Homo sapiens: one gene and its partner. The protein of the gene in region 2 purifies or fractionates together with the protein of the main gene of each other region. This does not show direct contact. Each region holds a gene or a part of one and is shown on either strand. Other genes may lie near its edges.

Evidence for each region. The genes of interacting proteins can lie anywhere in the genome.
Region 1: the proteins of ARHGEF7 (region 2) and KLHL2 purify together in Homo sapiens (affinity purification with mass spectrometry; 3 studies listed by BioGRID and IntAct, with this or other methods). This does not show direct contact.

What each region holds. Positions count from the first base shown.
Region 1 is NC_000004.12:165,308,534-165,315,560, reverse strand, and holds part of KLHL2 (kelch-like protein 2), read right to left. Parts: intron 5,009-7,027; coding exon 4,811-5,008; intron 4,098-4,810; coding exon 3,996-4,097; intron 2,633-3,995; coding exon of another isoform or gene 2,610-2,632; exon of another isoform or gene 2,485-2,609; intron 2,324-2,484; coding exon 2,195-2,323; intron 1,536-2,194; coding exon 1,395-1,535; intron 1-1,394. UniProt on the Homo sapiens protein: Substrate-specific adapter of a BCR (BTB-CUL3-RBX1) E3 ubiquitin ligase complex that mediates the ubiquitination of target proteins, such as NPTXR, WNK1, WNK3 and WNK4, leading most often to their proteasomal degradation.
Region 2 is NC_000013.11:111,118,296-111,125,322, reverse strand, and holds part of ARHGEF7 (rho guanine nucleotide exchange factor 7), read right to left. Parts: intron 1-7,027. UniProt on the Homo sapiens protein: Acts as a RAC1 guanine nucleotide exchange factor (GEF) and can induce membrane ruffling. Functions in cell migration, attachment and cell spreading. Promotes targeting of RAC1 to focal adhesions. May function as a positive regulator of apoptosis.

The sequences.
Region 1 (7,027 bases), on a different chromosome or scaffold from region 2:
AATTTTGTTATTTGCATAGAAAATAAACATCATTGATTGAGAAGGAAAAACAAACTGAAAAGTAAGCTTTCAGATTTCTCTCTCTTCCTGATTATCAAATAAACTCAAGTAATGTTGTCTAAATCAAAATATGAAACAACTTTTCAACAGAGACTTACGTCTTTTTCCTAAATCCTACCCTTTCCCACACAATTTTTTGAAGAACAGGATAATGGTAGCTCTATATATACAAATTATCTCTTTATTCTTCTACCTAAATGAGTGAATTTTGATATGAAAACAATAAACACATATAGAGAAAAAATAAATTAGTCTAACCTTTAAGAAAATATTCATAAAAAGCTCAAATTGCAACTAAATTTCCTAATCCAGGAAGACACATGCACAAATCACCATGGCTTTTCTAACTTAATGTATACTGGAGTCACTTATTCTACTAAGGACCCATATTTGAGGGTCTTACCATCTAACGAACTGATTACCATATACAACTGACTAGATGACGTGCAAGGCCAAACAGAATTAACTATAAATTCTGGTCTGCTGCCAACAGTATCTGCAGTTCCACATACTTAGTCTCTCTTAGTAATCACCCTTCTTTAAAGAGAAACTAAGATGAGCGCTGATGGAGGGGGGTGTCCAATGGTGTACAGTAAGTTTGAGACTCACCAGGAACTTATTTTACACTATGAGAAATGACATGAAGATAATGGCATTTTGAAGAATCCTAGCATTTCCTGAAAGGCTATGTAGCTATCTTGAGTCTATTTTCCATTTGTATTTCCCTTTCTTGATTCTTCTTTTTAAGTGGTTAGTTCCCTAATCTTGAAGTTCTCTACTTTCTTAAAATTATTTGTTGTTATTGTTGTTGCTTTAGTTTTTCCATTTTTCTGGAAATCCTGAACTGTATTAAGCTAGGGTTACCTTTGCAGACTTCCCCTCTAGATTTAGATAATCAACTAGCTTTTTAACCTAGTATAAATATCTACTCAACTAGACTAAATTTCCTGAGAACTAGGATCTCCAGTGTATGATAGATACATAGTAGGCACTAAATTATATCTGTTGTAAGAATGAATGAATTCAGTATCATTTAAAGGGTCTACACCTAATTTAATTAGTCTCCACATTTATCACCAAAAAGTAGCAGCTAGTAGAAATGATGAGTTTACTGAAGTGTCACAACAACCTGTTATGTTCCAGAGACTATGGCAGGCATTCACTTTATAGGATTATTACATAAGTTTCTGGCTTTAAAGAGTTCAGAGTCTATCAGGGAACCCAGATCAGTAAAAGAACAATGGAAATACCATTGATATTCATTGATAGAGTGATACCAGTGAAACTTAAAATAAAATTCAACATAAGTTTTATAACCTTAAACTGACAGATACCTGCATTTCTTCTGCACATGTTCATATCTGCAACCTGTCTCCATGCGTTAGTGGTGGGATCATATACTTCAACACTTTTTCGTACTAAAGGGCCATCATGACCTCCTACAGCATACAATAAATTGTTTAACACACCAACACCTATAAAACACAACCAGCCAAATAGAGGGGCAAAAAGAACAAGAGATTTATATCATATTAGGTTTATTTAAATGACTTGTAACTAAAACTTTCGAAGTTATAATTCATAATAAAAGCAAGCTGATACTATAGCCTACAATTTAAGAAATGGAAATCAATACAATTGATGATTAAATAAGCATCTCAACAAACTATTATTCTGAAAAAAGAGGCATGTCAAACAGAATAAAAATATTAATAACATGTAGGTGAAACACAGGGAGGGAAAAAGTCCTTTAATGTAATCCTTTTGAAAACAATATCCATAGTAAAATAACCGCATATTAAAGCACAAAATTTTAAGAAATATACATGAAAAGACTTGATTATTAAGCAAGTTCCCCAATAAGCACTAAAAACAAAAAACTAAAAGGAGTGCTAACAACTTGAATATATAAATGAAACAGAAATGTCTATGGCACTTAGACATTAAATTTTAAAGTAAAATTACTTTGTAATTACTCCCATTACCTGCACAATTCAAAAGACATTTAGCAGTGCCACTAAAATCAGCATATCATATATTTTCAGATAATGTAAAGTGATGCCACTGAATCATTTTACTTTAACTATTTTCCATCATTTTTGTGCTTCAGTTGCTAAAACAGGTTCACATGTACCTGCTCCACTCCGCCTGGTGCTCATTTCTGCTATATAGGTCCACTCATTTGTTGTAGCATTATAGCATTCTACTGTGCTAAGACACTGACGTGATGCTCCATCATAACCTCCTACAGCATAGAGCAAACCTACACATAAAATCACATAGAAAGCCAAATTTATTAAAAAACAAACAAACAAAAAACACTAATTTTTCAAGCCAGAAAATATTAATATATTTTCCTTCATGGCAGCAGAGTTTCCCCTTAAAGTGCTGCTGATTTTTATGAAATATATTAGGGTCTTGCCTAATGGTGACAGATGGGGTAATCAAATCATGTTATGAAGATCTGCAGGGTATAGCTGATGATGTTAATTTTATACTTTCATCAATAATCTGATAAAATAGCACACTCATTATATCTTTAGGTAACACTATTTGATAAGTGAACAACATCCTGTAAGACAGAATTAAATACCAAAGTTATCTTAGGAAATCGGAAAAAAGGTTAAATCAAAAATTAATAACAGAATGCAATGCAATATTACTTGGCATTAAAAAGGCATGAAGTACTAATAAATGCCTCAGTATAAATAAACAAATCTTGAAAACATCACCCTAAGCCAAAGAAGTGAGTCACCAAAGATCACATACTGTATGACTAAAATATTCAGAAGAGGCAAATCTCTAAGTGATAGAAAGTAGACTAGCAGTTGCTGAAGGTTGGGTAAGATACGAGTAAGAGCCAAGGGAAGCAGGATTGCTTTTAGAGGATAATAAAAATGTTTTAAAATGAATTGCAGTGATGGATGCACAATGAACTGTATACATGAAATGGGTGAATTGTATGATGTGGATTATATCACAATAAAGCTGTTTTTTTCTAAGTGCACAGATTACACCTACGATGAGGAGGGGGTGGAAACCTGCAAATTTGCCCAAGTCAATTAAAAAAAAATAATAATAATAATACTTAGAGCCTTCCTTAACTTCTGTTGGGAGACAAAGTAGGATATAAATAAATAACTGTGGCAATCCATCCCTTAACAGCCCTTCTCCAGATATAAAATTACACATTTATGTCACCTGAATTGTTCCCCCAAGCAACTGTTAAAATCAGTTGACAGTCTTATACAGCAGCAGTCCCCAAACCGCAGGCCATGGACCGGTACCTGTCTGGAACCTGTTAGGAACCGGGCTGCACAACAGGAGGTGAGCGGCAGGTGAGCAAGTATTACAGCTGAGCTCTACTTCCTGTCAGATCAGCAGCGGCATTAGATTCTCACAGAAGTGTGAACCCTATCTTGAAATGCACATTTGAGGGACCTAGGTTGTGCACTCCTTATGACACTCTAATGCCTGATGATCTGAGGTGGGAACAGTTTCATCCCAAAACCATCCCCCCAACCCACCCCTGTCCATGGAAAAATTGTCTTCCACAAAACCAGTCCCTAGTGCCAAAAAGGTTGGGGACTGCTGTTATATAAGTCAAACACACACGTGTTATATAAGTCAAACACACACAGTTATATAAGTCAAACACACACACACACACACACACACACACACACACACAGAGAGAAAGGAGGAGGGATAAAGGGAGGGGGATAGAGAGGGAGAGAAAAGGCTTTATATAGGTTGATTTATATAGAGAAGCTAATTTTAAAAAGAGGATAACTGAAATTTTACAGTAATTACGACTTTTCTTTTTAAAATGATAATTAGCTTGCCCATTCAGAAAACTAAAGTTGAGATTACTGGAAGAACCACTCTCAAGGATCAAAATGCCACATGTACCTGAAAGAACTGTCAACACCTACCTCCAACAACACCCACACCAACACTGCTCCTCCTTGTATTCATGGGAGCTACATGAAACCACTCATTAGACTTTATGTTGTATGCTTCCACAGATGACAAACCTATAATAAAGCACAATAGTCTTCATTTCCTTCTCTAAAAAATGTCAATAGTTCATATATATGGAAAAATACTTCAGGTATGTTATACTGGGCTAAAATTAAGAGAAGAAAATGGTGGAACATAAACACAGCAATTACATGAAAAACAGGTACAGCTTGTTTTCCAGAAGGCTCCTACCTAAGCTACTGATATTTATAAGCTTTTAAAATTTGATGACTGATACTGATGCATAAGAAAGAAAATTTATATACTCACCACTCATATCATTTAAGGAAATTCTTGATAAAATTTTAAACTTATCTTTAAATACCAGTTAAAACCTCACATGTTGTAATCCCAGCACTTTGGGAGGCCGAGGTGGGCGGATCACAAAGTCAGGAGATTGAGACCATCCTGGCTAACATGGTGAAACCCCGTCTCTACTAAAAAATACAAAAAAAATTAGCCGGGCGTGGTGGCGGGCACCTATAGTCCCAGCTGCTCGGGAGGCTGAGGCAGGAGAATGGCATGAACCCGGCAGGCGGAGCTTGCAGTGAGCCGAGATTGCGCCACTGTACTCCAGCCTGGGCGACGGAGCAAGACTCCATCTCAAAAAAAAAAAAAAAAACACAAAAAACCTCACATGTGCCCTAATGTTGCCACAATTTATTCCATAAACATGACTACTACGTTAATTTTAGCAGCAATGTAGAATAAATGAAAAGGAAATTACCTGTACTCCCATCAAAGCCTCCCACAGCGTATAATAATCCATTTAACACAGCAGCTCCCAAAGTGCTTCTCCGGTCTCTCATGTTAGCAACGCTGGTCCACTGGTCCTTCACAGGGTCGTAGGAATCTACAGTGCGAACTCTTAATGAGCCATTAAAGCCACCAACAGCAAAAACAAGTCCAGCCATGTAGACCATGCCTGCAAAAGGAGTACAGCATTTAATGATCAACATGCAACTCAACTACCACCAATATCCAAAGATTGCTTTCTGATAAATCTATAGCTGTTGTCAGAACATGCTACTCTTAGGAGGAGCCTGATTAAATAAATCCTTGAAAATGCTATTCATTTGCAAGAACATCCAATCACTAAATTGTCTTTCTTTCTAAGGTTATTATTATTATTATTTCTTCCTTTCTTTATTTTGAGACGGAGTCTCACTCTGTCGCCCAGGCTGGAGTGCAGTGGCGCCATCTCAGCTCACTGCAAGCTCAGCCTCCCGTGTTCACACCATTCTCCTGCCTCAGCCTCCTGAGTAGCTGGGACTACAGGCGCCCGCCACCACACCCAACTAATTTTTTGTATTTTTAGTAGAGATGGGGTTTCACTGTGGTCTTGATCTCCTGACCTCGTGATCTGCCCGCCTTGGCCTCCCAAACTGCTGGGATTACAAGCGTGAGCCACTGCACCTGGCCTTCTTTCTAAGGTTATTAAAAAATGCAATGGCATGGGCTAAAGTACCATGTTGACTCTTGGTTTTTTTAAATATCAATTTACAAGCTTAAATAATGAGCCATTATTTTCCAACTACTTGAACCTGTACTCACCTCCCATAGCTTTCAATTTTGGATCTTCTAGTGGATATTCTTAGAATGAAACTCCATACGCTTATAATTTATTTGCATAACGTATTCCTAGTTTATCATGTTAGTGGGCTAAATCAGGGGTCGGCAAATTTACAGCTACAGGCTAAATTTGGTCCAGCGAACTATTTCTGTAGAACCCATAAGCTAAGCATGGTTTTTATATTTTTAAATGGCTGAAAAACAACCAAAAGAGGAATAATATTTCATGACATGTAAAAAGCTATATGAAATTCAAATTTCACCATCCATAAATATAGTTTTATTGGAACACTGCCACACTCATTCATTTACATATGGCTGGTTTTGCACTATAGCAGTAGATAAGAAGCTGTGACAGAGACCATATAACCACAAAGCCTAAAATACTTATTCTCTGGTCCTTCAAGAGAAAGTCTGCTGATCCTTGGGCTAAAGAGATATTACGGAATCAGTGAATGGAGAAACTAGACTGCTAGACTCAGGTTTCAACCATCTTTTCACTTTTCTCAACTTTTTTCATGCTGCTGTCCTAATCGGACAGGCTCCTATCACCATCTACTCTGTTCTCTTTAACTCTGAATCCTCAGTTAAAGTTCCACATTCTCTATGATGCCTTCCCTGTCCACTTTAGCCTAAAAGGGATTATGTCCAGCTCCCGAACCCTATAGCAAATAACATCTATGTTGTGTACTTCAGGTTTAATAAATGTACCGTCTATAATATAATTACTTTAAATTGTTCAAATTTTTATTGTTCTTAGTTCTATAATGTTTATGTCCCTGTGCCAGCCTGAGGGCAGGCAATGTGGCTCACAGTTCTCTGAATCCCTGTAGGGAGAACTGGAATCACCAGATATGTTTGACGAGCTCAATGTTTTGCAGATGTTATCAGGCAAGAGATGTACCTCTGCCCCTTACTGTCTTAACCTCTGGTGCTTTATTCCCCCACCCCTGTAAAAATACACGGAAATGCAGTCCTCCATATGGCAACAAGACCTTTCCAGTTCAGATGAAGTTGCCTGTTTTGGCCCCCTGCTAGCACAGAATTTAACAGACATCCTAAGAGGGCCTGGAGACTCGTGAGCAGCAACATACCAGGCAGCATGTTTCAGCATGAAACAATCCTGTATCCCAAAATCATAACTAACTCCAGGGAATGTTCATTGTGGGAATCTTGCCCATTGCAATTTTCATTTTCCTTTCTCTACCCACAAAATAACACTACAAATATGCCATCTCTTAGAAGTAACATAGTATGCTTACCAAGGTTTAGAGAATTTTAGGTCACAGAGAGGAAGAAAATAAATGAATCAATCTATGAAGTGCCCCCTACCAAAGGCTCTGGGTCTGGAGAAGGGACTGAACTAAAAGAA
Region 2 (7,027 bases):
TTTCAAATAACCAGCTTCCAGTTTTGTTTTCTCTAGTAATTTTAAAGTACTCAGAAGAAGAGATATGAAACCCAGGGCATAGGACATGGATATTCATTCATATATTCTCACTCTCTCTCTTTTTCTCATCATGGAAAGATTCCAGGTCCAAAGCAGTACAGTAAAATTATTTCAGCCTCACTTCTCTTGAAAAAAAATCCCTCCAAAACAGCCAGGAGAACAAGAAACACAAGCATCATCTTCAATAAAACTAGAAGACACCTGGTTGGGCGCACTGGCTCACACCTGTAATCCCAGCACTTTGGGAGGCCGAGGTAGGCAGATCACGTGAGGTTAGGAGTTTGAGACCAGCCTGGCCAACATGGTGAAACCCTGTCTCTACTAAAAATACAAAAATTAGCCGGGCATGGTGGCGCACACCTGTAGCCTCAGCTACTCGAGAGGCGGGGGCAAGAGAATCACTTGAACCCGGGAGGCGGCCGTTGGAGTGAGCCGAGATCGTGCCATTGGACTCCAGCTTGGGTGACAGAGTGAGATTCTGTCTAAAAAACAAAACAAAACAAAAAAAACTAGAAGACACCTATCCCCAGGCCACCATTATGAAGGCAGGGAGCAGACGGAGGATGGGTGGGGCTTCAGCAGAGACTAGAAGGTCCCATCCCAGTAGCCAGTGGCAAGTGCACCCTCCCAGGTGGTAGACAAGCCACCTGTCTGAGAGTCAGATGCAGGCCTAGGGGCCCCAGCCCCATCACAGCTGGCCACCCCTCTTGCCATCCTTGCAGGGGTCCGAGGCTTATTCTCTGGGGAAAAGTGAACCAAAGAGGCCAGAACATGGAGAGGGCCAGCATGGACAGGAGCCAAGGTGAGGATGGACACTGCTCTGATAGGCAGCAGATGGAGGAGTCTCTGGAGAGACTCACGGCTGCTGGAGAAGAGACCAACAGGTTCAGACTTCTGGGCATCACCAGGCTGCCCCATGGCGAGACCTGCATGTCCCTGGGCCCCAGCAGTCACACAGGACTTCCTGGTCATTTTGAGGGCCTCACACTTGAAAGATCACATGATGTTTCAGTAAATCTCCAACATGGAAAAAAAGAATTGCATAAGAGGACTCAGAGGAAACAGAGACAGTGAATGCAGGGAAGGAAGCACCCTTCAAGGAAACTGTAATGAATGTTCACAGGAAGAGAGGAATCTTCCCAGAAACAGGAAGGGACTGACTGAAAGGGAAGAAACAGAGAGAAACCAGATAACGAGAAAAAAGAACTTTTAGAAATTAAAAAAAAAATAGCCAAAGTAGGTCAAAATAAAAAATGTTAGTAGAAAAGTTGGGAGATAAAGTCAAGGAAATGTCTTTCAGAAGGAGAAGAAACATACAAGTGGAAAGGTCAGCAAATGAGAGACTCAACCCAGCAGGCCTGGCAGCCGCAGGGGCAGGGGGCGGGGCCGGGGGGGGGGGGCGCAGCCCACCAGCCAACGATGGCCAGTTACCAGCCGCTCTGGAGCTCCGTTTCCTAATCTGAAAATGGGGGCGATCCTGTCACCACCTCCCTTATAGGGTGGTGAGGAGGGTTAAATCCATTATTATGGGCAAAGTCCTTAGAACAGTGCCTGGCATACAGTATGCACTCAATAGATATTATCTCTGATTAGTCTTAATAAGATTTCTAAAAAATGAGAATAGAGAAAATACTAGAGAGGAAATTATCAAGGAAATAAAGGATATAGAGGGTATTTTAAACAAAGGTACAAGCACTCTTGTGATTGGGATGGACTGTATTTACATATATCGGCATGTCCCCTAGTTAAGAATGGCACGGGCATGTATGTGTGTGTGTGTGATTTGTTATCTATGGCCATGGTAAACCTCAGTGGCTGGCTTGAGTCAGCCTGGTCCGGGCCTGCTGGTGCAGCTGTGCCTGCTCTGGGCAGGGCAGGCAGCTTGCTGACCCTGGCTGGGCTCTCTTCAATGTTTGAGGTTGGCTGGCTGTGGATAGGTCCAGGATGGCCTAGCAGGGACAACTGAGTTCTCCTCCATGTGATCACACCCCACCAGCACCCAAGCCCTGGGGTCTCCTCGGAGGTAGACACAGGGCCTGAGAGAGTGCAGAAAAGTGCAAGCCTTTCCAAGGCCTGGGCTAGGAACTAACACTGGCCACTTCTGCCACAGTCCATTGGCCAAAACAAGTCACAGCTCAGATTCAAGAAGTGAGGAAGCAGACTCCTACCTCTTGATGGAGGCGCTACAAGGTCACTTTGCCAGGGGCATGGGAGGGTTGGAGAATTGGGGCCACTTCTATCGTCTACCCCAACCCTTCTCCACTCTGCTTTGTGTCCTGGGAGGCTGACCTCTATACACAGTATCCCAGGGCCGCCTCCCAGCACAGGCCTTGGAGCCATTTGCTTAGACTACAGTGTGAACGGTTCTCCCAAGACCGGGCAGTACACAGCTTACACAACCACATGCAGGTGCCCTCAGTGAAGCCATCTGCAAAAGGAGGCGTCTGGGCTGGATGACTCTACATTCCTTCATCCTGAGAACTCACAAATACTTTATACCCAAGATCCTAGCATTTCTCTTCTGACCTGCCTGAAGAGGTGGTATGGCTGGCATCCATGCGTGCGCTTCCATGCGTGTGATTGGGTCACTAGCACGCACACAATAGGAACCTGGTAAAAGGGATGATTAAATGAATTCACATACATGTGTTTGAAATACACTGTGCACACATTCCATTTCAGTTCCCCTCACCGCCTCGCCTTGAGACCCCAGCAGACATGACACCATCCTGCAAAAACAGAGTTGAGAACTGCCAGCCTGGTGCATCAAACCTTAAAAATTCAAAGCTAAAGTTAGAAATATAAAAACATCAAGAGATTAATTCTCCTACCCTAACTTGACAGAACTGATAAAGGAGGGAGAAGTCAGAAGCTGTACCCGGGAAGCAGTCGGACCGGGGCGGCCCCAAAGCCCTCTCTCTGCAGACACCAGGTGGGGCAGGCTGGCCCTCACTTCCCATCTCTGACTCCCGGCCCTGCTGATGCATGAAACTTTATATAAGCGAAACCTGAGTCCACCCGCTCAGCCCTCCCGCTCCCCAACCAGCAGCTGTGTGCACTCAGCAGCTGCGCCCAGATCTGGCGCTGACCAGAGGGCCCTGGAAGCCACGTTCAGCAGGCCCACCAACCCAGACAATGGTGGTCTGTCCAGAGTGGGATGCAGAGGCTGCCAGCCCCCGAAAGTTGCAAGAGTCTGCCCTGTTGTGAGAATTAACCCGTGTTCCTGGATTTGGATGGCTCTGAGGTTCAAATCTTGGCTTACAGTCTTCTGGACACGATGGGGAAGGTTTTCAGTGTCAATCAACAAAACAGTAACTACTGCGTACTGAGGAATGACTTTGTGCCCAGCACATCTACTCATTTACCCTGGTAATGACCTCACTGCCCCCACCAGTGGATATCATTCATCTCATTTTTAGGAGGAAGAAACTAGGACTCCGAGAGGTTAGACAGGTGCCGGAAGTCACAGAGCAAATGGCTGCGGGAACAAAGCCAGGTGTGCCTGACTCTGAAGCACGCAGAGGACCGGGTCTCCCAGTGTCTCCAGGCAGGGACCCGTGGGTTCGGGGGATGCCAGTCCTCCCATCTCCCAGCGATGCACGTGGTAGAGTTGCGTGCCCAAAGGGATGATGTGCCTCTGCCACCTCCCTCGTGCAGTGAGAGACGCGTGGGCGTCAAGCCTACACAAGACTCCAATCCAAACGGCTAAAATCCACCCTACACAAGAACAAACGGCTCTGCCCCCACTCACCTCACAGCCCCCATCGCCTCCACTCTTTACATTTTAGAGTGATCAGTGGCCTCTAAAGGGAGAGAGATGTTCGTGTGTACATAGTACTTGAATTTTAAAAGTGTGTGTGGTGTAGATGCACACAGTTTGAAATCTTGGACTAAGTGGAAATCTGGTAAGCCCTACAGAGTAGGGAAGCCCAGAAACTACAGTGAGTTATTGGATGGTACAGGAACACGGAACACACGTTCTGCGGCCGGGGAGAAAGGCCCAGACACAGACTTCTGCAGGAGCTTCTGCAGGTTCCCCCAGGGCAAGGGGCCCTACCCTGGGTGCCTTTGGGGTCTGTCTACTGAAGGGCAGAGCTGCTTCCAGATGTCCCGAGAAGTGAGACACCTGCAGTGGCTCCAGGCACTCCTGAGGGCTCCCACTCTGCCCCTGTGGCCGGTGACCTGAGCCAGCCCCTCCAGTCCTCACTTTTGTCCCCCCTGGGTGCTCAGTTACACTGCTGCCTCCGTCTCCTTTCCTGATCTGGTTTGTAAATTTCTGAAGGCAGTGGTTGCGAATCTTCCCCTAAGTTCAGTATAGGTGGCAGAATCAGTCTTGTTTTCCATGAGAAAGCTCACAGTCTTGAGCTGGAATCTTCCGCCTCCGAGTGCAGCCAGATGACCTGGGGCAAAGCTAACTGCCAGACCTCAGGGTCCTCATCTGCAGTATGGGTATTGCGAGGGACAGCGCCTGCAAACGAGAGGAGCATGCTGCCTGCCATGCTGGGCAGACATCTTATTCTCTTTTAAGATGTATAGAAAGGCAGGCAGTGCCTAAAGAAAGGAGGCGAGCAGGCAGATTCTGGAGTGACTTCTATTAATAGAATGAGGGCCGGGTCCTGAGATGGCATCCTTTGGACTGGGCTTGGAGAGTTCACAGAGCAGCTGCCCCTGAGAAAATGGAATGCCACATGTGCCAGCACTCCTTCCCCCACTCCCTCAACCCCCGTCAGACGTGTCTGTGTGTGCGTGTGTGCGTGTCTATGTACACGCATGTGTCTGTGTGTGTGTGTATTTACATGCATGTGTTTACGTATGTGCATGTTTGTGCAGGCATGCATGCGTGTGTGCATAAGTTCGTGTGTGCACATGCATGTGCAAGTGTGCATGTATGCGTGTGTGTATGCTTGTGTGTGTGCTCTCCTGTGTCTGTGTGATGCCAACATAAACACTAGTTTCTAGTCTGGTTCTCAGGAAATCTCTTCAGGCACTCCTGATTTAAATTGAATTTCAGTTTGTTTGCTTTCTTTTTAGTGAGCCAGCAAATGCAGTTCCAGCTACCTTCTTCCCTAGGCCTGAAACCCAAACAAGAATCACACTGGTTCAGGGTTGAGACAGGACTATAAAGTCACATGCTTCAAAAGGAAATGTTTATTATTGCAAAATTCACTATTCTGGAACCATATTCAGGGTAGTTTAGTTAGAAGCAACTTGATATAACCAGTTATTCAGTTTGCAGGGTTTAAAGAAGTCTCCTTAAAAACACAGTCTGGAGATACCATATTATAACTTCTCTATAAGTGACTTAGCCAATCAACAAGTCTTTATGACGGCTACAGGTCACGGGCCTGAGTGAGAACCTTACCCTACCACCACATGTGATCACTCATCACGTTCTTTTTAGGGCCAAAGGACCTAAGAAAAGGCACATTTCTAGCAGGTGAGCACTTCTGCTTCTCCTCACCCCAGCCCCTAACCAACCCCAGAATCCTGACACTGAGCAGAAAGTGAGTCTCCAGTTTACCTAGAAAAAAGTATTTCCTTTTTTCCTATGCAACATCAGATTTGCTGATTTTCTGCAAGCCTGTGGAAAATCACCTAGGGCTGCCAGGTTACAGTTTGGGAAATGCAAACCATATTCTTACCCACACGTCAGCAAAGTCTTGGGTCTGACCTGCTCAAATGCTGGTCTTTTTAGCTCCTTGATTCTTTTGCTCCTTCTCATCCATATCTGACATTACGACTCTTGACTTCCTTCTGCCTCATGCTGTTCTTGTCTTTCGAGTTACATTTTCTGTACTGGAACCCCCAAGACTCTATTATTTAGGTTTTGCAATCTCCCCTAGCACCTGGCATTGTGCAATCAGATCAATAGCTAATAAACTGATCTGGTTCAAATGTAGAAACAACCTGTCATGAGCTGAACTGTGCTCCTCCAGCATTCGTATTTTGAAGTCCTAACCCCCAGTATCTCAGGATGGGGCCTTATTCAGAAATGAAGTTAATGCAGATGTAATCGGTTAAGATGAGGCCATACTGGGGTAGGGTGCCCCTAATGCAATTCCACTGATGTCCTGCTAAAAAGGAGGAATTTGGACACAGAGAAGAAACCACAGCACGGACATCATGTGAAGATTGGACTTGTGTTGCCACAAGCCAGGAACTACCAGAAGCCTGAGAGTGGCCTGGGACAGACCCCTCCTTGGAGCCTTCTGAGGGCACGAGGCCCTGCAGGTACCTTAATCCCAGACTTTGGGCCTCCAGAGCTGAGAGACAAATGCCTCCACATCCAGCACTAAGACCCGAGGCAGCGTCTGATTTTCAATTACATTCCACAAACACCTAGCCAGGGTTCTCGGGAGCACATCACATGGATTACACAGGAAGGTTCTCTGTGTTCTGTTCTCCTGGGACACACAGAGAAAGAACCAAGTTCCTTGAGTTTTTTATAGTGAGTTAAGAGACTTCATTTGTTGCATTCACAAGTGAAATTAAAAGAGCATTTCATGATTTCCATGATTTTAATGTGTTGTATTAGTCTTATAGAAATTTTCCATCCTCTACAATTCATGTATCTTGATTTCACCTCCTTTGACTAAATACCCTAGGGATGTTTAAAGTGAATTTGTGAGAAAAGGGCTTCCAGGGCTCCCTAGACGTCATGACCTCTGCTCACGGGAGGAGTGTGGGAAGCCGAAGACATGGGCAGCCCAGCCAAACATCCTGACCCCTCCTGGAGAAAACCAAAGTGCAGGATCTCCAGATACAGAGAAGGCGAAAACTTTTTAATCCCATTTTCCTCTCCCCTACAGCAGAAAACATCTGTCCAGTATAATGAAAAGTGTCTCTTTTCTGAACTGTTCATGTAAAGTTTATAATTCCATCTTCTCACTGTCTAACCTTCCACCTTAAAAGCAAAGCGGGAACCTGGGTGGAAAGTTTCCTTTAAATGAGCAGAAGAATCTGACAC